Linked DNA regions of Homo sapiens: regions 1, 2, 3, 4, 6 and 7 are each linked to region 5. The links come from fine-mapping of genetic effects on gene expression. A gene starts in region 5. Each other region holds a variant in brackets. All regions are shown on one strand. Distances are from middle to middle.

Region 1 (4,067 bases), 28 kb before region 5:
AGGGTTTCTCTCCAGTACGATTTTTCTTATGTGCAGTAAGGTTTGAGGATAAGTTAAAAGCTTTGCCACATTCTTCACATTTGTAGAGTTTCTCTCCAGTATGAATTATATTATGTATAGCAAGGTGTGAGAACTGTTTAAAAGCTTTACCACATTCTTTACATTTGTACAGTTTCTCTCCAGTATGAATTACCTTATGTTTAGTAAGCGTTGAGGACAGGTTAAAGGCCTTGTCACATTCTTCACATTTGTAGGATTTCTCTCCTGTATGAATTTTTTTATGGTCTGTAAGGTTTGAAGATCGGTTAAAAACTTTGCCACATTCTTCACATTTGTAGCATTTCTCTCCAGTGTGAATTATCTTATATGTAGAAAGGGTTGAAGACTGGCTAAAAGCTTTAGCACATTTTTCACATTTGTAAGGTTTCTCTCCTGTATGAATTTTCTTATGTGTAGTAAGTTTTGAGCATCGACTGAAAGTTTTGCCACATTCCTCACATTTGTAAGGTTTCTCTCCAGTATGAATTCTTTTATGTATAGTAAGAGTTGACACTTGGTTAAAAGCTTTGCCACATTCTTCACACTTGTAGGGTTTCTCTCCAGTATGAATTCTTTTATGTATAGTAAGAGTTGACACTTGGCTAAAAGCTTTGCCACATTCTTCACACTTGTAGGGTTTCTCTCCAGTATGAATTTTCTTATGTGTAGTAAGGTTTACGTATAGGTTGAAAGCTTTGCCACATTCTTCACATTTATATGGTTTCTCTCCAGTATGAATTATTTTATGTGTAGTAAGAGTTGAGAACTGGTTAAAAGCTTTTCCACATTCTTCACATTTGTAGGGTTTCTCTCCAATATGAATTTTCTTATGTTTAATAAGGTTTGATGATCAATTAAAAGCTCTGCCACATTCTTCACATTTGTAGGGTTTCTCTCCAGTATGAATTCTTTTATGTGTAGAAAGGGTTGAAGATTGGTTAAAAGCTTTGTCACATTCATCACATTTGTGTAACTTCTCTCCAGTATGAATCATCTTATGTTTAGTAAGGGTTGAGAAATGGTTAGAAGTTTTGCCACATTCTTCACACTTGTAAGGTTTCTCTCCAGTATGAATTTTCTTGTGTTCAATGAGTTTTGAGGATCAGGTAGAAGCTTTGCCACATTCATCACATTTGTACTGTTTCTCTTCAGTATGAATTATCTTATGTGTAGTAAGTGTTGAAGATTGGTTAAAAGCTTTGCCACATTCTTCACATTTGTAGGGTTTCTCTCCAGTATGAATTCTCTTATGTCCAATAAGGGTTGAAGATCGGTTAAAGGCTTTGCCACATTCTTCACATTTGTAGAGTTTCTCTCCAGTATGAATTTTCTTACATGTACTAAGTTTTGAGGATAGGTGGAAAACTTTGCCAGATTCTCTACATTTGTGGGGATTCTCTCCAGTATGGATTATCTTATGTGTATTAAGGGCTGAGGACTGGTTAAAGGCTTTGCCACATTCTCCACATTTGTAGGGTTTCTCTCCAGTATGAATTACCTTATGTCTAGTAAGGTTTGAGAGTTGGTTAAAAGCTTTGCCACATTCCTCACATTTGTAGGGTTTCTCTCCAGTATGAATTTTTTTATGGTCAGTAAGATTTGAAAATTGTTTAAAAGCTTTGCCACATTCTTCACATTTGTAGGGCTTCTCTCCACTATGAATTCTCTTATGTGTAGTAAGGGTTGAGGACTGGTTAAAGGCTTTACCACATTCTTCACATTTGTACAGCTTCTCTCCAGTATGAATGTACTTATGTTCAGTAAGTTTTGAGGATCGGTTAAAAGCTTTGCCGCATTCTTCACATTCATAACGTTTCTCTCCGGTATGAATTAACTTATGTTCAGTAAGCTTTGAGGCTTGGTTAAAAGCTCTAACACATTTCTCACATTTGTAGGGAATTTCCCCAGTATGAATTATATTATGTGTAGTAAGGGTCGATGACTGGTTAAAGGCTTTGCCACATTCTTCACATTTGTAGGGTTTCTCTTCAGTATGAATTCTCTTATGTCTAATAAGGTGTGAGGTCTGGTTAAAGGCTTTGCCACATTCTTTACATTTGTAAGGTTTTTCTCCAGTATGAATTCTCTTATGTTTATTAAGGGTTGAGGACCAGTTAAAGGCTCTTCCATATGCTTCACATTTGTAGAAATTCACTCTAGTTTGGATTCTTTTATGTTGAGTTAGGTGTGAAAGCATGCAAAATGTTTTGCGACATTCTTTACATTTAAAATGTTTATTTTCAGTATGTCTCATCTTGTGTCTATTTGAATTTGAAATTTTATGGAAAACTTCTACATATTTATTA[C/T]ATTGAAATATTTTGCTCAAGGTAGTTTTCAAACATTGGTTAAGTCCACTATAATCTCCTTTGTGCTGTTTACACTCAACCACACTTTTACAGCCTTTTCTTAACTGTAAATTCTCATATCCACATTTTCTATATCTTCTTAGGGTCACTTTCTGGAAAGAATCTCTTATGTTCTGCTCTGGCCAAAGGTGTTGGGCAAAATAATAAAACATAACTGAAAGAAATAAAAGTAACAAACTACTTCACTTGCTCGACTCAGATGAATATACTTTACAAATCTAACCCATAAAGTTACAGAAACTACATAAGCAAGATGGCATAGCAAAATACCACAGGTTCTAATTCCTTCATAGACATATAAATGTAACAAGAGCATATTGACCAAAATGCATTTATAGAAAATTTATAAATGAGTTACGTGTGTGCAGTGTTCCAGGTTATCACAATTCCAAAAGCCACATGGAAGGAAGAGAAAAGTTGGTTACATTTACCCAACACAGCTCTTTCTGCTCCTCAGTATAACATAGTGTCTTTAGAAGTACATTACCAACTTTTGCTTTCTTTTTCAACAGACAAGAAAAATAACACACCCACATCTTTATTTCTGGCTTTATTAGGTGCTTTGGCGGACACTGGTTTCTGTCTCCAATGACATAAAGTGCTGAAATTAACAGTGGTATACTTTGGAATGACATTTTGAGTCTGCTGAGATCAAAGGTAAATGTTACAGCAGGAAAGAGACTGTACTACAGACAGGGAACAGTTGTGGCAAGTGATGACTATTAAGAAGAAACATGAATAAAGTCTTTTAACTAAAAAACAACTAGAACATTTCAGACAAGACACATCCTAAGAACATGTTTGAAAGACTCTCAGGATCTCTAGCTAAGACAAATGGTTTCAGACTTTGCCAGGACAAAGCTACATTATAGACACTGTGACAGGTAGCTTGTTTTTAATGTTCAAATTTCAATTAAAGATTACAATGCATACAAAATTTTAGGGCAACATAGCTCTATCAGATATTATAAAATTTTCAGAAAGCAACCATTAAAAAATTAATTTTAAAAAGTTAACATAAATTGAATAATACTCCATGAATGAAATAGAAACACAGACAACTATTAAAAATCATAAAAATTGGGATAACAAAAATATTAAAAATATCAAAAAACAGATATTGTGGAGGTAAAAAATATAAAAAAGGAACTGAAAAATTATAAGAAAAACTGATGTAAAAATTAAAAAGGTTAACAAAGAAACTAGAATACACACAAAGATATTTACAACAAGAACATATATAAGCACAATTTTAAAAGTCACAGACAAGAGAATATTGTGAGTTGCAAGATAAAAGTGATATGTTATTTATAAGCATAGTCTTATGAGGTAATGAGTGAATTTCTCAAGAAAATTTGCAGGCCAGAAGGGAACTAACTGTGTGACATTGTCCAAGTCCTGAAGAAAATAGCTGTCAAGTGAGAATAATACCAGCAGCAAATCTGTCCTGCCAAATAAAAAGAAAAAGCCAATCCAAAATAGCCAAATCCTGAAAAGGTATATTGGCACTGCATATGCCTTACATATGTAACTATATTTCAAAGCTATAGTAGTAAAAACAGAATGGAATATACAGAAAAATAAACAACAACAAAAAAACCAATGGAACAGAAATCACTACTCACACATTTCAGACTTGATGCAAAAAGAGAATTTAAAAAA
Region 2 (4,067 bases), 55 kb before region 5:
GTTTTTGGATATTGCAAAGTTAAAAGAACAAATATTTAAAGCATCCCAGGCACATCTGACCTTAATACCAGGAACTGGAGTGCTTGAAGGAGCTGCAGACGGATTAGCAGCCAGTAACCCATTAAAATGGATGAAAACACTTGGAAGCTCTGTGATTTCAATGATGATTGTGTTATTAATCTGTGTTGTTTGTCTTTGTGTAGTCTGCAGATGCAGATCCTGACTCCTGCGAGAAGTAGCTCACCGTGATAAAGCTGCCTTTGCTTTTATTGCCCTGCAAAAACAAGAAGGGGGATATGCTGGGGAATAGGCCCCCAAATCTGGACATAAACTGGCCCCAAAACTGGCCATAAACAAAATCTCTGCAGCGCTGTGACATGTTCATGGTGGCCATAACGCCCATGCTGGAAGGCTGTGGTTTACCGGAATGAGAGCGAGGAACACCTGGCCTATCCAGGGCGGAAAACCACTTATAGGTATTCCTAAACCACAAACAACCTATGCCTTAAGGACATGTTCCTGCTGCAGATAACTAGCCAGAGCCCATCCCTTTGTTTCGGCCCATCCTTTTGTTTCCTGTAAGGAGTGCTTTTAGTTAATCTATAATCTATAGAAACAATACTTATCACTGGCTTGCTGTCAATAAATATGTGGGTAAATCTCTGCTCATGGCTCTCAGCTCTGAAGGCTGTGAGTCCCCTGATTTCCCACTCCACATGCTATATTTCTGTGTGTGTGTCTTTAATTCCTCTAGTGCTGCTGGGTTAGGGTCTCCACGACCGAGCTGGGCTTGGCAAACGTAACTCTTTCTGGGTACTTCCTGTTGGAAAGGAGTGCTGTGGGCCGGGCGCGGTGGCTCACGACTGTAATTTCAGCACTTTAGGAGGCCAAGGTGGGTGGATAATGAGGTCAGGAGTTCAAGACCAGCCAACATGGTGAAACCCAATCTCTACTAAAAATACAAAAATTAGCTAGGCGTGATGGCATCTGCCTGTATTCCCAGCTACGCAGGAAGCTCAGGCAGAAGAATTGCTTGAACCTGGGAGGCAGAAGTTGCAGTGAGCTGAGATCATGCCATTGCACTCCAGCCTGTGTGACAGAGCAAGACTCCATCTCAAAAAACAAAAAAAGAGAGAAAAAATGAAAAGAAAGAAAAGGAGTGCTGTGGCAGGGGGACAGCAGTTGGGGCTCCTTCTGAGGTTGATCTAAGGGTTCTCAAAAGAATGGTGTGTCCATGTGTGGCTCTGTTCATAGCACCATTTAAGGTTTAATTGTTTCTAGGTGAAAAGAGAGAAATTTTTCAAGAAGGCTTGAAATATAGGGTTAGAATATGAGTATTTAGCTTACCATTGTTAGTAGAGATCCTATAGACCATAACTGTGACAGCAGAGTTTGTTAGCTGTTAGCTACACCAATGGATTGTAATACCAGTTTGCCTCCACTAGATGTTGCTGTACATTGCCAGAAATGTTAATATGAAAGTAACATTTGTTTTGAGAAAACATACATTTCCCCCATGACTTGCCATTAGGGAATACTATTAGGTTTAGGCCATCTTTTATAACTTACAATATCATTGGGAGAATACGTTATTGGGTGGCTAAAATAACTTTAGTGTTGATCTTAGCAATTTCTTTCCTTTAATTATTAAATTCTTTCATGACAGGCCCTCTTACAAGATTCTTAAAATTTCTGACTTGTCCTAAACATCCTTCCTTTAAACAGCCAGTCATTTCCTTTCAGGACAAGAATTTACCATACAAGATATTTTCTTATATAAAA[TC/T]TTTTTATAACCTTCTTTCCATAGCTTAGAGTGCACCATAGTACTAATCTTTAATACAAAGTCCTATCAAACTTAACGATAGTAAAACTTCCATGCTTACTTCCTATCCATAACTCTTACTCCTGCTATAAGCAAAACAAACTTGACTAAATCTTTTCTGCAACTGCTAATCCTTTTACAAAGATAATAATTAGGCAAATTGTTTCAGCAATTAGAATTTTACAACCAGAATTCCACATTGTGGGTGCCACAGTGTACAGTTCTATTGCAAATAATAGCGTGAATATAACAATTCCTGCAAAAGTGGTGTAGTAAATAGTTTCTGTTTAAAACTTTACTTGCCAAGCTATAACATTCTCCTTTGGGAATTTATGAAGTTACAAATGCAATTCTATGTATAATTGAAATTTCTGGCAAATATGCATTAAAAAGAAGGTCTAATATTTGGCGGTGAATTTTGAGAGGAAATGTAGAATTTTTTTAAAGTATCTGGTGAGGTAGATGGGATTGAGTAAGATGAGTAGCTCTCACTCAGTTACTTATCTTTTACGATTTTCAGGTTAAGATCTTCTATTTCTCCACACTGATATTCAGGACATTCCTCTGGGCTGTCAGAGGTTGCTCCCTCAGCTCTTCAGGCTTTGACTTGAGTGTGATGCATTCAGAATTTGATACCTGTAACTTTTACTGCCAAGGGGCTTGAAAGAAAATCAGTGTAGGGCTCTTCCCAGTTTGAGTTTAGGAAAGGAGAGAGTTTTCACTAATGCCAAATCTCGAGTTAAACAAAGGTGTTCCTATTTCCTGGGGTTGGGCTTCTGCCAGTTGTGTCAATTCCTGTTGGAAGTGAGCTAGAGAGGTTACATGCTTAACCAACTTAGAGGTTTTCTGCCTGAAAAGAATCTCTGAACACAATGATAAGATTTATCCTTTCCTAAGTGAAAAACTTGTTGAAGGATTTTAAGGACTTTCCATTGGCTTGAGGCTGGCAAATGGAGTTTGCCATCCTCTGTCCTCTGACTGTAGCCATCCTGAGAGATGAAAATATACCCTCAAGAAGCAGCCCATTCTATTTCCACAGAGAAATACTGAGGTTTATTTTCTCTTATGGAGCCTTCCTATATTCGAAGGGCTTGAAGTGTGTTAATTCTTTGAGGCTTCCTCACCTTTGACTTAGCTGTCTGATCAGATAACCTGTTTCCTTTGGCTACTTCATCTGTTCTCTTTTGATGTTCCTTACAATGTGTCCCTGCCATTTTTCATGGAAGGAAAACTGAGGATAATAACCAGTTAATTTCTGGTGATATTTTATAGGAGAAGCATTAGTGGTAAGATTTCTTTCTGCTTTTTATTATAAGTTGTATTTCATACAGGTATTCAATTTATATCACCCTCCTTCATTATTTTAATATAAAGCCTTCTCCACTTTATATCAGTGGAAAACAGGCCACCTGGTGCCAGGAAAGCACATGGATTGCCATTTTAATGATGATGATGAAAAGCACTTGTTTGGGTGGTACTCACGTGCCAAACACTGTTATTTGGCTCAAAGTACCAGTTTTTTATTCTTCTCTAAATGTAGTGATAAAATAAAATAAAATTCTTAGTTAAGAAGACTTTATCTCATTCAAGTATGTATTATGAAATTTTGTTGACACTTAAGTGTCTCTGACTTACCTAGAATATTGAAATTTTTCATGAATTCAATTTGAACACTGTAAAGAAACTTTTTTTTACTAAAAGCCTTTGTGAGGCAGAATAAGATTTATGAAATGTCTTTATAATATGGAAAAATGTGTTAATGATGTTTGTAGTAATCCCTCTGAACACAGCATTCTCAATTCCCGGTATTCACCCTGAGTTACTCAGGGGAAATTGGTATCTCTGTAAACAGGCAGAAGAAAGTGCAGAGTGAAGGTGCACAACATAGCACAGAAATGTTTTCCACATGCACCTATTAGGGTCTTAATGTAATGGACTGTTATTTGCGTGGCTACATACTTACTGAATCTAGTCATGCTATTTTCTGGCAGCTAAAGGCATCTGTTACCCATTAATTTTATATAATTATTTTCTTGGTGGAAAAATAAATCCTTTTTAAATTTACTGTAAATTAAGAGATTAGATTTGTAATCTTCAATTTTTTAATGTTAAAGCAAATCAGAGAAAAGCCATGTGTGTATATTGTATGCATTTTCCTACCTATCGAAATTCTTGTACTGCCCTGAAATATCAAGGACTTAATAACGGAGCAAATCCTAAATCTGGTCTTTGCTTCTTGTTAGTA
Region 3 (4,067 bases), 360 kb after region 5:
CTTGAGTTTTGAGATAACCTGTCTTCAAGAGATCTTGGCTGGGTGCTGTGGCTCACGCCTGTAATCCCAGCAGTTTGGGAGGCTGAGGTGGACAGATCACCTGAGGTCAGAAGTTCAAGACCAGCCTGGCCAACATAGTGAAACCTATGTTGAACCTAAAAGTTAACCTTTTAGTCTCTACTAAAAATATAAAAATTAGCTGGGTGTGGTGGCGGGCGCCTGTAATCCCAGCTACTCGGGAGGCTGAGGCAGGAGAATCGCTGGAACCCAGGAGGTGGAGGTTGCAGTGAGCCGAGATTGCGCCACTGCACTCCAGCCTGGGCAACAGAGCTAGACTCCGTCTCAAAAAAATAAAATAAAATAAATAATAATAATAGCTCCTCATTTGACCTCAGTCAGAACTACTCACCTTATATACTTTTTCTTTTTCTTTGTTTTTTTTTTTTTTTTTTTTTTGAGATGGAGTTTCGCTCTTGTTGTCCAGGCTGGAGTATAGTGGCGTGACCTCGACTCACTGCAAATCCCGTCTCCCGAGTTCAAGTGGTTCTCCTGCCTCAGCCTCCCGAGTAGCTGGGATTACAGGCGCCGGCCACCACGCCTCGCTATGTTTTTGGATTTTTAGTAGAGATGAGGTTTCACCATGTTGGCCAGGCTGGTCTTAAACTCCTGACCTCAGACGATCCACCTGCCTCGGCCTCCCAAAGTGCTGGGATTGCAGGCATGAACCACCATGCCTGGCTCACCTTATATACTTTTATTGTCCACAAGTTTTATTCTCACTGCTCTCTCCAACCCAATTTAACATATTATCTTCTGCCATTGATAGGCTTTCCTATGTTAACCCAGTTGGCGTTTTTAGGTATTGATTTGTCCTCTTGAAAGGCCTTTCAAGTTTAACTGAAATTTGTTTCTAGTTTTCAAAGAAAAACTGTCATGTAAAAATCCTGTACTAAGAAAATATATTTATTAAAACTAAAGCCTTTAATAACTAAGCTCTTAGTTATTAAAACTAAAAGGCTTTAGTTAGTAAACTATATAAGCCTCAGTTATTAAGGCTTTAATTATTAAGACTAATCACTCTTGAAAGCCTTTCACGTTCAATTGAAATTTTCTTATTCCTCAAAGAAAAATTGTCATGTAAAAATCCTACATTGAGAAAATATATTTATTAAAACTAAATGTAAAATAAACACATTCCAGAGCAAAAAAACTGAGAAAATTTGGTGCTAGCCAGCCCATCTTACAGAAAATATTAAACGAAGATAAGGCTAAAATCAACTGACCACAGATAATAATTTGAATTCACATAAAATGACAGAGTATTGGTAAAGGTAATTATTACAAAAGAAAGTATAAAAGAATATTACTTTTTCGTTATTATCTTACTTCATTTCAGACAAACAATTGTATAAAAATATGAATATAGGCTGGGTGTGGTGGCTCATGCCTGTAATCCAGCACTTTGGGAGGCCAAGGCGGGCAAATCACGAGGTCAGGAGTTCGAGACCAGCCTGACCAACATGGTGAAACCCCGTCTCTACTAAAAATACAAAAATTAGCTGGGCGTGGTGGTGTGCGCCTGTAATCCCAGCTACTTGGCAGGCTGAGGCAGGAGAATCACTTGAACCTGGAAGGCTGAGGTTGCAGTGAGCTGAGATCACACCACTGCACTCCAGCGTGGGGGACAAAGCAAGACTCTGTCTCAAAAAAATAAAATCTCTTGATAATAAATTGATTCCACTGGAATAAGTAAATAAAACAACTAATAAAAGGATGATTATCAAAAAAGACGTAGATATGTAATTACCTTTTCCTTAAAATAAATAAAATTATATAAAATAAGTGTAAAAATGTGTCAAATTTATAACATGTGGATATAATAAGTGTAAAATTAATACAACAAAAATGAGAGGAACAAATAATATAGAACCAACATGTTTTGTATTTCATTAGTATTAAGTTTGTATAAATGTGAAACACATTCTAATGACATAAGATGTATATTGTGGGGCCGGGCATGGTAGCTCATGCCTGTAATTCCAGCACTTTGGGAGGCCGAGGCGGGCGGATCACCTGAGATCAGGAG[T/A]TCGAGACCAGCCTGACCAACATGGTGAAACCCGTCTCTATTAAAAATAGAAAAATTAGCTGGGCGTAGTGTTGGGTGCCTGTAATCCCAGCTACTCGGGAGGCTGAGGCAGGAGAATCGCTTGAACCCGGGAGGCAGAGGTTGCAGTGAGCCAAGATCGCACCATTGCACTCCAGCCTAGGAGACAGAGTGAGACTCCGTCTCAAAAAAAAAAAAAAAAAAGTATGTTTTAGGCTGGGTACGGTGGCTCACACCTGTAATTCCAGCACTTTGGGAGACTGAGGCAGGCGGAACACAAGGTCAACACATCGAGACCATCCTGGCCAACATGGTGAAACCCTGTCTCTACTAAAAATACAAAAATTAGCTGGGCATGGTGGCCCACGCCTGTAGTTCCAGCTACTCCAGAGGCTGTGGCAGGAGAATCACTTGAACCCCGCAGGCTGAGGTTGCAGTGAGCTGAGATCGTGCCACTGCACTCCAGCCTGGCGACAGAGCGAGACTCCATCTCTAATTGTAAGAATTAGAGAAACAACTAAGGGTATAATTCCAAAAATATGTGAAGAAAATTATGAAAGAAATTAGAATGTTACATAATAATTATGCTCTTAATGCAAAACAAAGCAGTAGAAGTAGAAAAATATAACAAAATGCATGAGATTATAGAAAAGAAAATAATATAACAAATATAAGCACAGCTATATAAATAATAACATTACATATAAAAAGATTAAACAGGGCCAGGTGCAGTGGCTCACGCCTGTAATCCCAGCACTTTGGGAGGCCAAGGCAGGCGGATCACTTGAGGTCAGGAGTTCGAGACCAGCCTGGCCAACATGGTGAAACCCCATCTCTACTAATAATACAAAAATTACCTGGGTGTGGTGCTGCACGCCTGGAGTCCCAGCTACTCAGGAGGCTGAGGCAGGAGAATCTCTTGAACCCGGGAGGTGGAGTTGCAGTGACCCAAGATCACACCAGTGCACTTCAGCCTGGGCGACACAGTGAAACTACGTCAAAAAAAAAAAAAAAATTAAACAATTAAGGAAAGCTGAGATTTAAAAAATTAAATATAGAAAAATCTAATTGAATGCTGTTCACAATACATGCACTTTGGATACAAAAGAACAAATACTATAAAAGTGAAAAGGCGGAAGCATGCAAATAGCTACCATAAGAAAGTTGTATTTGTTGGCTGGGCACGGTGGCTTATGCCTGTAATCCCAGCACTTTGGGAGGCCGAGGCTGGCGGATCATTTGAGGCCAGGAGTTTGAGACCAGCCTGGCCAACATGGTGAAACCCCGTCTCTACCAAAAGTACAAAAAAATTAATCAGGCTTGGTGGCATACGCCTGTAGTCTCAGCTACTCAGGAGGCTGAAGCAGGAGAATCGCTGGAACCCGAGAAGCAGAGGTTGCAGTGAGCCGAGATCATGCCATTTCACTCCGGCTTGGGCGACAGAGCGAGACTCTGTCTCAAAAAAAAAAAAGAAAGAAAAGAAAAAAGAAAGTTGTAGCTGTTATTTTAAAATTAGAATAAGCAGAATTTAAAACAAAAATATTTAATAGACATAAAGTAGGACATTTGATAGAGATAAAATGGATAATAAAAAAGATAATAAAAAGGATGGCATGACAATTATAAACATATATACACCAAGAAATAATCGGCAAAATACATAAAGTCAAAACCGAGAAAAATGAAGAAAAAATAGAGAATTCAACGATGATAATCGAAGACATACATATCTTTTAATAATCATTTAAAAAGCAGTAAGAAGATCAGCAAGAAAATGAAGCACTTGAAAAGAAAGGTAAAAATAACTAGACCTAGCAGACATGCTTAGTATGCCCCCAGGAAGCACCTGCAGGTTATATATTCTCCTTAAATGCATGTGGAATCTTCTCTAGGAGAGAATATACTCAATGCCATAAAAATAAAAAATGCAATTTAAGTATTTAACAAATGCAATGTGTGTTCT
Region 4 (4,067 bases), 90 kb before region 5:
CTGTGTCCACTCTGCCTCCTGGAATGCCATGCGTTTAGTACTTGTAAACCTTTGCTTCTCTACTTGCATTTTTCTTCCCTATTAAGTTTATTTTAACTACTTTAAAAAATTCTCATGATAGTCAAGCATCTCTGAAAAATACTTCTTTCCTATATACCAGAGCCTACTCTACTTTCTCTACATCGTGGCTTCTTATATTCCATGCAGAATTCTCACATGACTTTGTGATGTGCAACATTAAAAATGTTTCCTTTGTGGCTGTGGATACTCAACATTCCTATTGGGGAAAAGCTGGTGCCGAGACCAGCTCGGTCAGGGAGAACCTAACCCAGCGGCGCTAGAGGAATTAAAGACACACACAGAAATATAGAGGTGTGAAGTGGGAAATCAGGGGTCTCACAGCCTTCAGAGCTTAGAGCCTCAAACAGAGATTTACCCACGTATTTATTGACAGCAAGCCAGTGATAAGCATTGTTTATGTAGATTATAGATTAAAAGTAGTTCTTATGGGAAATAAAGGGATGGGTTGAAATAAAGGGATGGGTTGGGCTACTTATCTGCAGCAGGAGCACGTCCTGAAGGCACAGATCGCCCATGCTATTGTTTGTGGTTTAAGAAAGCCTTTAAGCGGTTTTCCGCCCTGGGTGGGCCAGGTGTTCATTCCGGTAAACCCACAACCTTCCAGCGTGGGCGTCATGGCCATCATGAACATGTCACAGTGCTGCAGAGGTTTTGTTTATGGCCAGTTTTGGGGCCAGTTTATGGCCAGATTTTGGGGGGCCTGTTTCCAACAAGCTGGGGTCCTTTGTAAATATGGAGAACATGTAATGTTGGGGTTTCATTTGTGTTCTCCATTAGCTCTATGCAGAACAGAATTAACAAAATGCTTATTTAAACAGGATAACATTTATTACCCAAAAAGTTCTAAAAAATAATTACTCAGAGATGGCCAGGCATGATGGTTCATGCCTGTAATCCCAGCACTTTGGGAGGTTGAGGTGGGCAAATCACCTGAGGCCAGGAGTTCAAGACCAGCCTGGCCAACATGGTGAAACCTCGTCTATACTAAAAATACAAAAATTAGCTGGGTGTGGTGGCACATGCTTGTAGTCCCAGCTACTAGGGAGACTGAGGCAGGAGAATCGCTTGAGCCTGAGAGGCAGAGGTTGTAGTGATCAGAGATTGCATCACTGTACTCCAGCCTGGGCAACAAGAAAAAAAATTATTAGGAGAAAACTGCTCTCTACGGTGTTGAAGACTACTTAAAATTACTGTTAAAAATAACAACATAAGATAGGCACGTCGCTCACGCCTGTAATCCCATACACTTTTGGAGGTTGAGGCGGACAGGAGTTCGAGACCAGGCTGGCCAACATGGTGAAACCCCATCTCTACTAAAAATGTAAAAAAAAAAAAAAAAAAATTAGCTGGGCATGGCAGCGGCGGCAGGCGCCTGTAATCCCACCTACTTGGGAGACTGAAGCAGGAGAATCGCTTGAATTCGGGAGGCGAAGATTGCACTGAGCCGAGATCACACCATTGCACTCTAGCCTGGGCAAGGGAGCAAAACTGTCT[CA/C]AAAAAAAAAAAAAAAAAAAAAACCATACACACAAAATAACAACATAAGAGTTATCTGTATCTTGAAGAGGGCATAAAACTGATGTTTGTGTATGGTTAAATTCAGACTATAATTTACTTTTGCGAGGGGCAATATTGAAGCAGTGATGCTGTGTTTTTCTGTGTGCCTCAGCGCATCATACAAATCTGTCCTGGTTCAGTTGATGTTAATGATTCACTTGGTATACCTATGTAACAGAACATGTAACCTATGTTACATGTTCTGCACATGTAACCCAGAACTTAAAGTATAATAAAATAAAAGAGCTCTCTGACAGATTTATTTTTCTTACTATAGAGTTAATTATTTTTCTCTTCTTTATTAAGTATCTTTATGCAGCTGATGTGCATAAACCATCACATTTAATCTGGAAGCTGCCCTTCTTTCTTAGGTTTCCTTTGTATATATTTGTCTTTGGAAAATAAAGGCTCTCATCTTTGTTTACAGGCCAGAAAAACTGGGAAAATCACAGGCTCTTCCACTTACTGGATGTTTGACAAAATATTCTTCTTGGGCCAAAAACATTGGCATTACTGGTGAGCTTGTTAAAAATTTGGAAACTCAGACTTTATTCCAGATCTTCTGGAAAGAAAATCTGCATAACAAGATCTCCAGTTTATTACTGTACACATTAAAATTTTAAAGCTAGCTTGTAACACAGCATTTCTTTTCTATCTGAAAAATATACACAGCTGATTCTGTATGATGTAAATATAGCACTCACAAATGTACGTGTTTGTGTTACTAATTTTATACTTTATTATCTAGAAAAGTATCATATATAAACTGCTATTGTGGATCTTATGCTACTCTTTTCTCAGAGTTAGAGAACACATTTGAGAATATTTCTGTTTTGAAAATTATTTTATTGGATAATTTTAGTCACTCCTATAAGTAAAAACCAGTTCTCTTTACTTTCGCATTCCACCTTGAGTCAAATTAAATATTCTGTCCAGAGCAAGTTGGTAAATATGTTTTTGTGTGTGTGTGTTTTTCAGGGACCACTGACATTTAGGGATGTGGCCATAGAATTCTCTCTGGAGGAGTGGCAATGCCTGGACACTTCACAGCAGAATTTGTATAGGAATGTGATGTTAGATAACTACAGAAACCTGGTCTTCCTGGGTGAGGATAATTTTAATACATAATTTAAAGGTTTCACTTCTCCTTTCTGTAGAATGTTTTTTGGAAATTTCTGCTTTGCATAAATAAATTTTAGATCCCTATTTTCAACAAAATCCTGGGGATTTGTTCATTTAGAAATGAATTTCTTCAAGATGTTTCATCTTGACTTGAACTTTCCACGTTCTTGAGCTACTCTGTATCCTTCACTCTAGATTAATGGTAATTCCAAAAATTTAGTGGCATAAAAGTTGCCCACACCGTAAAATCTAATTGCCACCACTAATTTTTCATTCCGTAGTACTGAGTAGTGAAATTAAGAACATACAAATTTAAAATATTTTTTAAATATTTAGAAATTTACATTACTAATTAGATATTTTGGGATTAATTTACTAGAATACTTAATTACATCCTCTTTACTGAGCACATTACTGGTTGATAATTGGAGAATATGAGCAAGATTCATGTTACTCATTTTTAATAAAACAGGTATTGCTGTCTCTAAGCCAGACCTGATCACTTGTCTGGAGCAAGGAAAAGAGCCCTGCAATATGAAGAGACATGCGATGGTAGCCAAACCCCCAGGTAGGTGAGAGTGATAGCGAATATAACAGATGACACAGATGACAGGTCTAAAGGTCAAGGAGAAAGTCAGTTCTTAAAATGTGATTTGGGCCAGGCGCGGTGGCTCACGTCTGTAATCCCAGCACTTTGGGAGGCCGAGGCGGGCGGATCACGAGGTCAAGAGATCCAGAGCATCCTGACCAACATGGTGAAACCCTGTCTCTACTGAAAATACAAAAATTAGCTGGGCGTGGTGGCACATGCCTGTAGTCCCAGCTACTTGGAAGGCTGAGGCAGGAAAATCACTTGAACCAGGGAGGCGGAGGTTGCAGTGAGCCAAGATTGTGCCACTGCACTCCAGCCTGGAGACAGAGTGAGACTCCATCTCAAAAAAAAAAAAAAAAAAAAAAAAAAAAATGTGATTTGGGAAGCTGCGTTCAAAAAAAGTAGTTTCTGGAGAGCTGGATTTTTTTTTTTCCTTTGCTCTCACATAGGAGCATATTCTGTCTTATGCTTTTAAATTCTCTAAGGATTCTACTTTCCCTTCAGTGATTTTCCTTCAAGTTTATGGTGAAAGCTAAAGTCCTATTCCTGGCATATAGGAAACTGCACAATCTTACTGCTTTTCCATTGTTTTGGGGGACACACAGATATCTGCATAATTTTGAGAAACTCTGTGTTAAACTATTTTTCATGTTCTCTTTTTGCATCACATCTGAAATATGTGAGAGTAGTTTATATTACATTGGGTTTTGTTCATTT
Region 5 (4,067 bases):
AGACAATCTTAACTTCTCTAAGGGTTTGCTTTTCAAAGGAAGAGTACCCCAGGAGACTCCTCTCAGCCTCAGGGCATCCACCTGCTCCCTTGAGAGGCTACACTCCAACTTCAGGCTGTCCTGTCTCCCATTCCCAGATATGCGAAGTTTCATTCCAGGCCAGGAGCTGAAATTTACTAGACATTGTAGCATACACAGCCACAGTGGATATCTTGATTTATCCCCAGACAGTACTGAAACCCAGAACCAGGGAAAAAACTGAAGGGTGGCTGAGGACACATTACCTTATAAAGTTTCCAAAGGGAAACCCTGACCCAAAAATATTCTGATAAGGTTTCTGTGGCTAGAGGCAATAAAAGGAAAGGAGGCACAGAACATTTTTTACAATACAGTGTCAGGGGATTATTCTTTGCTTTCTTCTCTTGGGAAATCTTTACAAACAGAAAACAAATCTTTTTTAAAATGCCAGCCAATGCTTTGTCAAAAAATGATTAATTAAAATATGGTACCTAAAATGTACACTAAAGTGTACATTAAAGGACAAATAGTTGATAATGTGAATTAGGGAGGGGAAATTGGCATTTGGGAATGTCAGAAGGAACTGGAAATTTAGTATTTTACTGCAAGCCAGAGTTAGGCTGGAGGAATGGGAAATGGGGAGAAGTCTTGAGACCCTGCTTGAGACAGAAGTGAAAAATGCAGAGGAAAATCAGTGCCCTGTGGAGTGTGAAAATAATTAAGTGGCAGGCAATTAGACTGAGGTGGCTCCAGTCCTAGGGTTGCTACTTGCAAAAAAATCTAACTCGAATGATTTTTTTCTAAAGTATTACATTGGGGGAAAATAAAATTCAGGCTTAACCAACTATAAACTGCCAATTAACCTCTCATTACATGACCAGGGAATTTCCACCTTGATCGTACAAATTAAGAAACTACATAACTTTACCTAACCAATTATTGAATTTGCTTTCCTTTATCATGCACTTTATAAAAGTGTTTTCTTCAAGCCCCTTCCATAAACCACAAACTACAAAACATAGCTTGGTGCTCTACAATTCTTGAATTACTCTTTAATTAAATTCTTTAATATTTCTGCGGAGACTTCCACAAATTTTTAATAGAAAAAAAGGGGGACTGGGAACCCCGCAGACCAAAGCTCTTCCCATTCATGAACTCTGCATCCTGAGTCAGTATTCTCCCCTGACGACCGTCCAGTGGTCCCTGCACAATCGGGGAGAGCTGCGGCAGTGGGGGCAGAGCTGCCCACAGAGGACTCCAGAACAAGGCACAGTCACTGCGCAGGGAGGAGACAGGATGCCCGGGGTCCGAGCTGTCAGCCCGGCCGCCATCCTATGGCTGAAGGGGACTGAGGGCCGAGCTGCGCCAAGGAGAACTCGGGGCCGCGGATTTTGGAGCCAGCTGCGGGGAGGCCAGAGTCCCGCCACAGCCACTTCCCACCAGTTCCAACCAGCCCCGCCCCCTCTCTCGGGATGTCGGACCCGGCACTCTCACCATTTCTAGGCTTCCAGTGGGTCCTGGCGTCTTAGCTGTGGATCTCCCAATACCTGCAGGTAACGAGGCCACAGAAGCTGGGCCTCTAGGAGCAGAAGACACAGAGCAGTGAAGACTACACCAGAAGCTCCGGCTGCCGCCAGAGACAAAGGCCCCACCAAACCCGGAAGCCGTCCTGTCTGCTCCAGCTGAGTGCCTGATTGGACGGGTCCCAGCCCAGCGTCCCTGATTGGATAATGTTTAGGGCCCCACCCTCTCAGGCCTTGATTGACAGAAGACGTGCTCAGATGCTGGGCTGAATGTAGAGTGAACCCTAAGCCTTTTCAGGCAGAGCTTCCTCCCTGAGCTGACCCAGGCCCTCCCCAGACGGCATTTGCCTTGTAAGGCAACCGTCTGAAATAAAATGTGAGCCATGTGTGAATTCTAAATTTTCTAGTAGTTAAGAAGAAAGAAGAAACAGGTGAAATTCATTCTAACCATTTAATAACCCAATATATCCAAAATATTATTTTAGTATAGGAGCAATATGTAATTATTAATGTAGTGTATATATTCTTGGAACTAAATCTTTAAATCTAACCCTGTATTTTACCTTTCTAGCACATCGCAGTTCAGACCAGCCATATTCCAGCTATCCTGTAGCCACACATGGCCAATAGCCACCACATTGAAGTGCAGCTCTGATTTCATACTTCCTCTCTCTCTCTCCTCAAACCTCCTGTGCTTCCTTCCCTCCCTCCCTTCTGCTAAGCTGATGCTCACTTCTCCAACGTTACTAGAAGCCCTCAGAGTGAATGTTCTTATCTTCCCACCATCCACCGACTGTGTCTCTGTTCCTTCCACTGTCACTGTGTAATAATTGCCCTTCTGCGGCTGGGCATGGTGGCTCATGCCTGTAATCCCAGCACTTTGGGAGGCTGAGGTGGGAGGACTGCTTGAAGCCAGGAGCTTGAGACCAGCCTGGGCAACATAGTGAGACTCCATCTCTACAAAAAAGTTTAAAAATTAGCCATGGGCTGGGTACGGTGGCTCACGCCTGTAATCTCAGCACTTTGGGAGGCTGAGGTGGGCGGATCACCTGAGGTCAGGAGTTCAAGACCAGCCTGGCCAACATGGTGAAACCCTGTCTCTATAAAAATACAAAAATTAGCTGGGCCTGGTGGCGTGCACCTGTAATTCCAGCTACTTGGGAGGCTGAGGCAGGAGGGTCACTTGAACCCAGGAGGTGGAGGTTGCAGTGAGCCAAGAACGCACCATTGCACTCCAGCCTGGGTGACAGAGCGAGACTGTGTCTCAAAAATAAAAATAAAAGTTAGCAAGGCGTGTTGGTGTGCACCTGTGGTCCCAGCTACTCAGGAGGCTGAGCTGGGAGGATAACTTGAGCTCACGAGTTCAAGGCTACAGTGAGGCATGATTGGGTCACTGCACACCAGCCTGGGTGATGGAGTGAGACCTTATCTCTTAAAAAAAAAATGTCCTTTTGATTTATGAAGCCTCGGCCCGGCCTGAGCTGTGGTTCCTATTCCTTCTGGCTTTCCCAAGCTTTTCTTGCCCACTGGAAGTTTCACTGGAGGGTAGAGGACTGGCTCTGTAGTTGGGGACCTAATTGATGCTCTGTTTTCTGTAAAGAGGAATTTTTCTAATTGTCACTTAGCAGGGAGCCTGGCTAGGAATGGAATCTGGGGGCATTACTATTGGTTTACCCTCCTGGGGACCCCTCATCTTTGGTCCATGCATATTCTCCTTGGGGTGGCATCCTGTAATTAATGATCTCTTACATATCACAGCACCTCGAAGCTCCCCCAGACACATCCTCATCCAGCCTCTCACTCTGATGCCATCATTGTCTAGGGACACCTCCGCATAGGTCCATACCATGTCTCAAGCTGCTCATCTCAACAACATTTGTGCTCTAGGAGGTGGAGGTGCCCTAGGGGGCTCCTCACCAAGGGAGTGGGCAGGTGATCCCAGCACTTTGGGAGGCTGGGGCAGGTGATCCCAGCACTTTGGGAGGCCGAGGCAGGTGGGTTATTTGAGGTCAGGAGTTCATGATCAGCCTGACCAACATGGTGAAACCCCATTTCTGCTAAAAATACAAAAAAATTAGCCAGGTCTGGTGGTGCATGCCTGTAGTCCCAGCTACTCAGGAGGCTGAAGAGAATCGCTTGAACCTGTAAAGCGGAGCTTGCAGTGAGCCAAGATCATGCCACTGCACTCCAGCCTGGGTGACAGAGTGAGATTTAATAAAAGTGTATGCATTGAATCCATTGGGAGGTTTATCTGTTGGGGGAATGGGAATAACTGGGAATCACACAGACAGAGAGACAGGAGTGGGGCCTTCCATGGGGCCATGATGCCGTGGCCCGTGGGTCTGGGTGGGGGAATGTGATGCACTCTGCCCTCCCCCTAGGCCTCATCCCTCCTGTCTAACTCAGTTGTCCTTACCTGTGGCTCTCAGGCTCCCCTGCAAAGGCACATTGTGGCTGCAGCTTCCAGCTTCCTCAGAAGCAAACATACTTTGGTAATAGCCAAGAGGTCAGGCCGGGCTTGGTGGT
Region 6 (4,067 bases), 210 kb before region 5:
GAACTCCTGAGCGCAAGTGATTCTCCCATCTCAGCTTGCCAAAGTGCTAGGATTATAGATGTGAGCTACCGTGTGCTTCTTCAATTTCTTAAGATTATTTCTAGCAATAATAATAAACAGTGCTATATGGGCACAAATCTAAAAGAAATCTGGCTTCTATTTTAGAAGTGTCACTCTCCAGGATTTCAAGGGTCAAATGGAGTTAATTCTGAGTCCCAGCCCAGCCACTTAATAGCTGTGGGTCTTTGCACAAATTTTTTTTTTTTTGATGTGGAAGAGTTATATAAACCACATATGCAAAAAAAGGCAGAATGATACTGATTGCAAAAATGTTAGCAATTTTTCATCCCTCCGCTATCCATGCCCATTGCCAGGTGCATTTACAGCTGTTTCCATTGAGATCCAGTTCTGTTTTCCAAACCCTAGATCTGGCTGGCCTTATTTGCTCAGGGCAGTAAAAACCTGTGAACAGTGCAGTGTGCTAGTTTGAGGCGTAGGCTCAAATGGTTTTGCATGCTTCTGTTTTTCTTTCAGAAGGCTACTATCTCCGCGAAAAAAGCCCATGTTAGCCAGATGGAAGATAAAATAGTATGGGGAGGAGAAGCAAGTTGCCTCTGTTGACAGCCTCAGAAGCAGAAGCTCACCCCCAGAAGCACAGCTGCCTAGTCAACAAGCAGCTGATGATACATGTCTGAAGGAACTCAGCTGAGGTCACAAGAATGGTCTCACTGAGCCCAGCCTAAATGACTAACCATCTCAATTAGAGTGAATTCCACCTGTTTATTCTTAAAGTTTGACTACTAGAAAATTTGGAATTCACATGTGCTCTGTAATCCCAGCACTTTGGGAGGCCGAGGCAGGTGGATCACCTGAGGTCAGGAGTTCGAGATCAGCCTGACCAACATGGCAAAATTCTGTCTCTATTAAATATACAAAAAGTAGCCGGGCGTGGAGGCGGGTGCCTGTAATCCCAATTACTCAGGAGGCTAAGGCAGGAGAATCACTTGAGCCCGAGATGCGGAGTTTGGGGTGAGCCGAAATCGTGCCACTGTGCTTGAGCCTGGGTGAGAGTGAGACTCTGTCTCAAAAAAAAAAAAGAAAAAAATCTCAGGCTGCCTGCTCAAAGGACCAGAAGCCAGTACGGTTATAAAATCTGGAATTTAAAAATAATTGTTATATTCAGATGTGAATAGCTATATGTTATTTATAAATGCATACGACCTTATACACAAGGTTAAATGCAAATGCCCTCTGGGGTGGGCCTGACTCAGCTCAGGGAGGAAGCCCTTCTGGAAAAGGCTGCTGCTTAGGTTTAACTCTGTCTTCCTTCAGCCCAGCACCTGAGCACATCTGTCACTCAGGGCCTGAGGGGGCGGGTTGTTAAACGTTATCCAATCAGGGACGCCGGGCTGGGAACGGTCCAATCAGGCACCCAGCTGGAGCGGACATGACGTCTTCCGGGAGGCGGCGGGGTCTTTGTCTCGCTGCAGCGGGTGCTGCAGGTCTGGCCTTCACTTTTCTGCGTCCTCTTACTCCTAGAGGCCCAGCCTCTGTGGCGCTGTGATCTGGTTATTGGGAGATTCACAGCTAAGACGCCAGGATCCCCCGGAAGCCTAGAAATGGTGAGAGTGCTGGGTCCGACATCCCGAGAGAGGGGGAGGGAGCTGGTTGGAACCGGTCGGAAGTGGCTGTGGCAGTACTCGGGTCTTCCCGCAGTCGGCTGCAAAATCCGCGGCCCCGAGTTCTTGGCACAGCTCGGCCCTCAGTCCCCTTAAGCCATAGCATGGCAGCTGGGCTGACAGCCGGAACCAGGCGTCCTGTCTCCTCCCTGCGCAGTGACTGTGCCCTGGCCTGGAGCCCTCTCTGAGCAGCTCTGCACCCGCAGCGATTGTGCAGAGACGACGGGAGGGTCGTCAGGGGAGAATCCTGACTCGGGGTGCTGGGTTCATGAATGGGAAGAGGTTTCCTCCGCGGGCTTCCCTGTCCCTCTTTTCCCCTATTAAAATTTATGAAAGTCACCGCAAAAAAATTAATTTAATCAAACAGTGATTCAAGAATTGTGGAGCACCCAGCTGTGGTTTGCAGTAGTGGTCCGTGGGAGGGGTTTGAAGGAAACACTTGTATAAGGTGTATGATAAAACCAAATTCAGTAATTGGTTAGTAGAGTTATGTAGTTTCTTAATTTGTACAATGAAGGAGGAAATTTCCTGGTCATGTAATCAGAGGTTAATTGGCAGTTTACAGTTGGTTAAACATGAATTTTATTTTTCACAAGGTAGTAATTTACAAAAAAATGCATTTGAGTTAGATTTTTTTAAAACCAGAAACCCTGGGACTGGAGC[G/A]ACCTCAGTCTAATTGCCTGCCACTTAATTATTTTCACACTCCACAGGGGACAGATCTTCCCCTTCATTTTTCACATGTGTCCCAAGCAGGGTCTCAAGACTCCTCCCCCTCCCCATTTCCCATTCCTTCAGCCTAACTCTGGCTTGCAGTAAAATACTAAATTTCCAGTTCCTTCTGACATTCCCAAATGCCAACTTCCCCTTCCTAATTCACATTATCAACTATTTGTCCTTTAGTGTACATTTGAAATACTGTATTTTAATTAATCATTTTTTGACAAAGCATGGATGGCATTTTAAAAAAGATTTGTTATCTGTTTGTAAATATTTCCCATGAGAAGAAACCAAAGACTCATCCCCTGATGCTGTATTGTAAAAAATCTCTGTGCCTTTTTTTTTTTTTTTAAATCTTCCCTAGGTACAGAGATCTTATCAGAATATTTTTGGGTCAAGGTTTCCCTTTGGAAACTTTATAAGGTAATGTGTCCTTAGTCACTCTTCAGTTTTTTCCTTGGTCCTGGGTTTCAGTACTTTCTGAGGATAAATCAAAATATCCACTGTGGCTGTGTATGCTAGAATCTCTGGTAAATTTCAGCTCCTGGCCTGGAATGAACTCTGGTTATCTGGGAATGGGAGACAGAGGACAACCTGAGGTTGGAGTGTAGCCTCTCAAGGGAGCAGGTGAATGCCCTGGGGCTGAGAGGAATCTCCTGGTGTACTCTTCCTTTGAAAAGCAAACCCTTTGAGAAGTTAAGATTGTCTTCAAACCAACCCAGTGTCCATTTCCGGAGACATATTGCTGGTCAATCAATCATATGCTGGTATTGAGGGGAGAACACAGAAATAATTTCGGCCCACTGGATTCTCTAAGATTTGTGAAAGAAATGATAGTATCCAAAAAGACAAATCAAACCTTACCCCAGTGAGATGGTTCAAGAACTTGCAAAGTGAAATGTACTTGGGGCAGTCACTGAGGCATAGTGCAGCGTCTTCAGAGAGGGTGGTCTTCAGAGAGGGTGGTCGTTTAGCACTTAAGTGAGCAGGATGGGGTGGGAGAATCTCTCAAGTGATTGGGTGGCTTGACTTGACATGTGAGTGAGATACATCTGTTTTTTAATCAGCACTGCCACTCCCTGGGATTGTCACCCTGAAAAGATTTGTTCACTTACTTCAGTGTTTTAATTGTAACTTGCAGTTTATTAGTAGGACTAAAAGGTAAGAGGATAATTAGAATGGGCATGAAAGAGATGGGTTTTGGAAAAAAATATCTAATCATATATTCTATTTGTTAAGTATTCTCATTTACCTTTTTCTTTCCCAGACTGAGTTTAGGAATTTTCTCAGGTCTGTTTTTTTATGGCTGGGTGATGTCCAAGAGTATTCCAAGGCTTAGCTTTTAGAATGCTACCAAGGAAAAGAATAGGGAAAATACTTCTTCCATTTTGGCTGTGGAAAACGAATACATTTCCGGCGGGGTGCGGTGGCTCATGCCTGAAATCCCAGCACTGTGGGAGGCCAAGGCAGGGAGATCACCTGAGGTCAGGAGTTCTAGACCAGCCTGGCCAACATGGTGAAACCCCATCTCTACTAAAAATACAAAAATTAGAAATTAGCCATGAATGGTGATAGGCACCTGTAATCCCAGCTATTCGGGAGGCTGAGGTGGGAGAATCATTTGAACCCCATAGGCAGAGGTTGCAGTGAGCTGAGATCGTGCGGCTGCAC
Region 7 (4,067 bases), 70 kb after region 5:
AAGTAGTGAAGGGGCCTCTAGGGACCCTCAACCTGCTTTTCCTTACTTCCCTGGGCAGCCTTGCAGGTGGTATGGCCAGTCCTACACCTCGTGTCCGTCAGTTTCCCCCGCTGAACCGTTGGGTGAGGGGCGGTGGTGGAGCAGCATGCGCATGTGTGGAGGAGGCGACTGCCACCGTGGTGCGTGAGGGCGGATGAGCAGCGGGGCCGTGGGTGTGCGCGGCGTGGCGCGCCAGTCCTGATGCCAGCATGGGTTGTTCATCACCGCTGCTGTCCCTGCTGTCGCTCCTGGTTGGTGCGTGGCTCAGGCTAGGTCATTGAACCGCCGGCCACGCCGGGGGCGCTGGGAAAGGGGATGGGGCCCTCCGCCCTGGCGGGAGAGAGCCTGAGGCCCCTCTGCCCGCTTCCGGGATGCGCCTGCAGCCGCCGGCTGGGGAGGTCGCTCTCGGTGCGCAGGGTGCCTCACCGCCTTGTGCTTTCAACTTCTTGCTCTGGAATCTTTCAAACTTATAAAAGGGAAAGAGAGGCCGGGCGCGGTGGCTCATGCCTATAATCCCAGCACTTTGGGAGGCCGAGACGGGTGGATCACTTGAGGTTAGGAGTTGGAGACCAGCCTGGCCAACATGGTGAAACCCCGTCTCCACAAAAATACAAAAAATCAGCCGGGCGTGGTGGCGTAGGCCTGTAATCCCAGCTACTCAGGAAGCTGAGGCAGGGGAATCGCTTGAAGCCAGGGGGCGGAGGCTGCAGTGAGCCGAGATTGTGACACTGCACTCCAGCCTGGGAGATAGAGCGAGACTTCATCTCAAAAAAAAAAAAAAGGGAAAGAGGAGAATGTAACGAGGAACGACCCCTGCCCTCACGTACTCGTGGGCCACCTTAAAGAGCTGCCAGTTTGTGGCCAGTCCTGCTCCTGTGGAATCGCACTCTCCCCGTCTCCTGGAGCCATTTTGAAGTGGGTCCAGACATAACCCATTTTATTCTAAACCTTCAGCTGGAATAGTCAAAAGAAGTCACGAAAAAATAATTACCCTTTCTCAACTAAAAAACTGGCAGTGCTGCTTAATAATATATCCAATCTGTTCAAATTCATCTATTATCTCATAAAGGGTTTTTAACGTTTGCTGGCTGAATTAGGGACAAAATAAAGCTCATACATTGCAATTGTATGTTATTTCTTAATTCTGATTCAATCTGATTATTTCCCTACTTACTCCTTTTATTTATTTGTTTTTTTGGTGGGGCGGGGGGACAAGGTCTCACTGTGTTGCCCAGGCTGGAGTGCAGTGGTGCCATCATAGCTCACTGTGGCCTCAAGCAATCCCTGCCTCAGCTTCCCAAAGTGCTGGGATTACAGGCCTGAGACACCATGCCAGGATGATCCATTTTTTCCCCTTGGTGATATATTTGTTGAAGAAACTGAAAATAGGCCAGGCGCGGTGGCTCAAGCCTGTCATCCCAGCACTTTGAGAGGCCAAGGCGGGTGGATCACAAGGTCAGGAGTTCAAGACCAGCCTGGCCAATATGGTGAAACCCCATCTCTACTAAAAATACAAAAAATTAGCTGGGAGTGTTGGCACGCACCTGTAGTCTTAGCTACTCAGGAGGCTGAGGCAGGAGAATCGCTTAAACCCAGGAGACAGAGGTTGCAGTGAGCCGAGATCATGCCACTGCACTCTGGCCTGGGCAACAGGGCAAGGCTCTGCCTCAAAAAAAAAAAAACAAAAAGAAAGAAAAAAAATGGATGAAATCAGTGTGAATGTGTCAGAATAAGAGAGCCAAAGACAGGATCTTGAGGAACATCAAAAGACCAGGACTCTGCCTTGAAAGAAGTTACAGTGCTTAGACATCCTTTCTTGTAAAGACACTGAAGTGGTGCATCAAGCTGAAGAAGTGTGGCCTATTGGAAACAGTACTGTAAAGAGACCCGAATCTAGTCCTGTCAGCTGCTAACCAGCTCTTTAAGTCATATTTCTTTTTTGGGTCTTGGTTTCCTCCTGTGGAATAAGGAGTTTGAAGCACAGACCCTTTTTTATTTATTTTGAGACAGAGTCTCGCTCTGTCCCCCAAGCTGGAGTGCAGTGGCACGATCTTGGCTCACTATAACCTCCGCCTCCCAGGTTCAAGTGATTCTCCTGCCTCAGCCTCCCAAGTAGCTGGGATTACTGGTGTGCACCATCATGCCTGGCTTTTTTTTTTTTTTTTTTGAGATGGAGTCTCGCTCTGTTGCCCAGGCTGGAGTGCAGTGGCACGATCTTAGCTCACTGCAAGCTCCACCTCCCGGGTTCACACCATTCTCCTGCCTCAGCCTCCCGAGTAGCTGGGACTACAGGTGCCCGCCACCAGGCCCAGCTAATTTTTTTGTAGTTTTTAGTAGAGA[T/C]GGGGTTTCACCTTGTTAGCCAGGATGGTCTTGATCTCCTGACCTCGTGATCCGCCCACCTTGGCCTCCCAAAGTGCTGGGATTACAGGTGTGAGCCACCGCACCCAGCCTAATTTTTGTATTTTTAATAGAGATGGGGTTTCGCCATGTTGGCCAGGCTGGTCTTTAACTCTTGACCTCAGGTGATTTGCCCACCTCTGCCTCCCAAAGTGCTGGGATTCCAGACGTGAGCCACCATGCCTGGCCGGTCCTTTTTAATTCTATGATATTTCTGAGGCATTCAAACAAGTCTAAAGGTGCTCATTTAACTATTTGGCGATAATCATTGCGCATTTATGGCAGGGACCAGGTATATACTGTCAAAAATATATATGTATTATATACTTCCCTTCTGGAGCATATAATGGTGAGAATCACCAAGAACTGTAAGAGTTCAGTAAATGGAGAGGAAGAGGCAGAGAAACAGCATGAGCAGAAGGATGGGTAGAAAGTGCTAGATGTATTTTAGGGTAGAGTGTCTAAATTCGCCTAGTTGGGGCAAGGGTTTGTGTAGAGGAAGAAAGAGGTAAGTGCAAATCTATCATGTGCGCAACATTTCACCCATGCTATTTTATTACTATCTTTTTATTTTTTATTTTTTGAGACAGGATCTCACTCTGTCACCCAGGCTGGAGTGCAGTGACATGATCATAGCTTACCGCAACCTTGAACTCCTGGGCTCAAGCAATCCTCCTGCCTTCGCTTCTGCACCCTGTCTCTGAGCCATTGAACCTGGTTCCATGTTACTTTAATTGATACAGCTACTACCTAAGAGATAGTGAGATAGTATCCCCATTTTTCATACTTATTTTTTTTTTCTTTTATGAACAAGCTACAGTTGTCCATAGGTATCCTCATTTTTCAGATGAAGAAATTGAATCTCAGCCGGGCGTGTTGGCTCACACCTGTAATCCCAGCACTTTGGGAGGCTGAGGTGGAAGGATCACTTGATCTCAGGAGTTTGAGACCAGCCTGGGCAACATAACAAAACCCCATCTCTACAAAAAATACAAAAATTAGCCAGGCGTGGTGGTGCACACTTGTGGTCCCAGCTCTTAGGAGGCTGAGGTGGGAGGACTGCTTGAGCCCACGGGGGCAGAGGCTGTAGTGAGCCAAGACTGCATGACTGCACTCCAGCCTGGGTGACAGAGTGAGATCCCGTCACAAAAAAAAAAAGAAAAAAGAAAAGAAATTGAATCTCAGATTAAGAAATTTGCCTAAGGTTTCCCATCAAACTAAGTGGCAGAACAAGAATGTGAAGGCAAACAAAATGCAAAAGGAATTTAAAGCCAGATTTTTAAACCTCCACATTTTTTGTTTTGTTTTGTCATACCATCATGAGTATTGCATACGATCCAAATATTACCACTTGTTTTATATATATGCATGTATTACCGATACCTCTCTTTTTTATCTGCAGGAAATGGACAGGCTACTAGCATGGTCCCACTGCCAGGTGGGAGATTCCTGATGGGAACAAATTCTCCAGATGACAGAGATGGTGAAGGCCCTGTGTGGGAGGCAACAGTGAAACCCTATGCTATCGACATATTTCCTGTCACCAACAAAGATTTCAGGTACATCAGGTGTTCTTCCAGGAGGAATGAAGGCCCTCTCTAATCTCATTCTTTTTTCCTTTCTTTTTTTTA

Which allele goes with the higher level. Alleles are on the strand shown, and positions count from the first base shown. SD is a standard deviation of normalised expression in the study named. Not every link is listed here.
In carriers of allele TC in region 2, the expression in tibial artery of the gene that starts at base 1,659 in region 5 tends to be lower than with T alone (moderate effect, 0.70 SD a copy in GTEx).

Evidence for each region.
Region 1: its variant is fine-mapped to the expression of ERV3-1 in whole blood (INTERVAL, PIP above 0.99).
Region 2: its variant is fine-mapped to the expression of ERV3-1 in tibial artery (GTEx, PIP 0.99).
Region 3: its variant is fine-mapped to the expression of ERV3-1 in spleen (GTEx, PIP above 0.99).
Region 4: its variant is fine-mapped to the expression of ERV3-1 in whole blood (INTERVAL, PIP above 0.99).
Region 6: its variant is fine-mapped to the expression of ERV3-1 in nucleus accumbens (GTEx, PIP above 0.99).
Region 7: its variant is fine-mapped to the expression of ERV3-1 in whole blood (TOPMed, PIP above 0.99).

Annotation. Positions count from the first base shown.
Region 1 is chr7:64,976,978-64,981,044 of GRCh38, forward strand. It overlaps ZNF117 (zinc finger protein 117), which reads right to left. Exons shown (of 4, transcript NM_015852.5): 4 at 1-2,559. The coding sequence ends at 1,142. It overlaps ERV3-1-ZNF117 (ERV3-1-ZNF117 readthrough), which reads right to left. Exons shown (of 4, transcript NM_001348050.2): 4 at 1-2,559. The coding sequence ends at 1,142. Among named protein-coding and RNA genes, the nearest start is that of ZNF117, 12 kb to the right of the region's middle. The variant C/T (reference allele first, on the strand shown) is at 2,346.
Region 2 is chr7:64,950,001-64,954,067 of GRCh38, forward strand. No RefSeq gene overlaps it. Among named protein-coding and RNA genes, the nearest start is that of ZNF117, 39 kb to the right of the region's middle. The variant TC/T (reference allele first, on the strand shown) is at 1,783.
Region 3 is chr7:65,361,739-65,365,805 of GRCh38, forward strand. No RefSeq gene overlaps it. Among named protein-coding and RNA genes, the nearest start is that of ZNF92, 10 kb to the right of the region's middle. The variant T/A (reference allele first, on the strand shown) is at 2,087.
Region 4 is chr7:64,914,967-64,919,033 of GRCh38, forward strand. It overlaps ZNF273 (zinc finger protein 273), which reads left to right. Exons shown (of 4, transcript NM_021148.3): 2 at 2,615-2,741; 3 at 3,231-3,326. Among named protein-coding and RNA genes, the nearest start is that of ZNF273, 14 kb to the left of the region's middle. The variant CA/C (reference allele first, on the strand shown) is at 1,576.
Region 5 is chr7:65,005,029-65,009,095 of GRCh38, forward strand. ERV3-1 (endogenous retrovirus group 3 member 1, envelope) reads right to left here and starts at 1,659. Exons shown (of 2, transcript NM_001007253.4): 1 at 1,513-1,659. ERV3-1-ZNF117 (ERV3-1-ZNF117 readthrough) reads right to left here and starts at 1,718. Exons shown (of 4, transcript NM_001348050.2): 1 at 1,513-1,718. It overlaps LOC105375330 (a long non-coding RNA gene), which reads right to left. Exons shown (of 6, transcript XR_927607.1): 5 at 3,958-4,067; 6 at 3,646-3,683. RefSeq lists an enhancer at 1,590-1,649 and a silencer at 1,750-1,919.
Region 6 is chr7:64,792,950-64,797,016 of GRCh38, forward strand. ZNF138 (zinc finger protein 138) reads left to right here and starts at 1,479. Exons shown (of 4, transcript NM_001271639.2): 1 at 1,479-1,622. The coding sequence starts at 1,620. RefSeq lists enhancers at 1,205-1,254, 1,495-1,734, 1,519-2,079. The variant G/A (reference allele first, on the strand shown) is at 2,343.
Region 7 is chr7:65,074,786-65,078,852 of GRCh38, forward strand. No RefSeq gene overlaps it. Among named protein-coding and RNA genes, the nearest start is that of SNORA15B-1, 6.3 kb to the left of the region's middle. The variant T/C (reference allele first, on the strand shown) is at 2,380.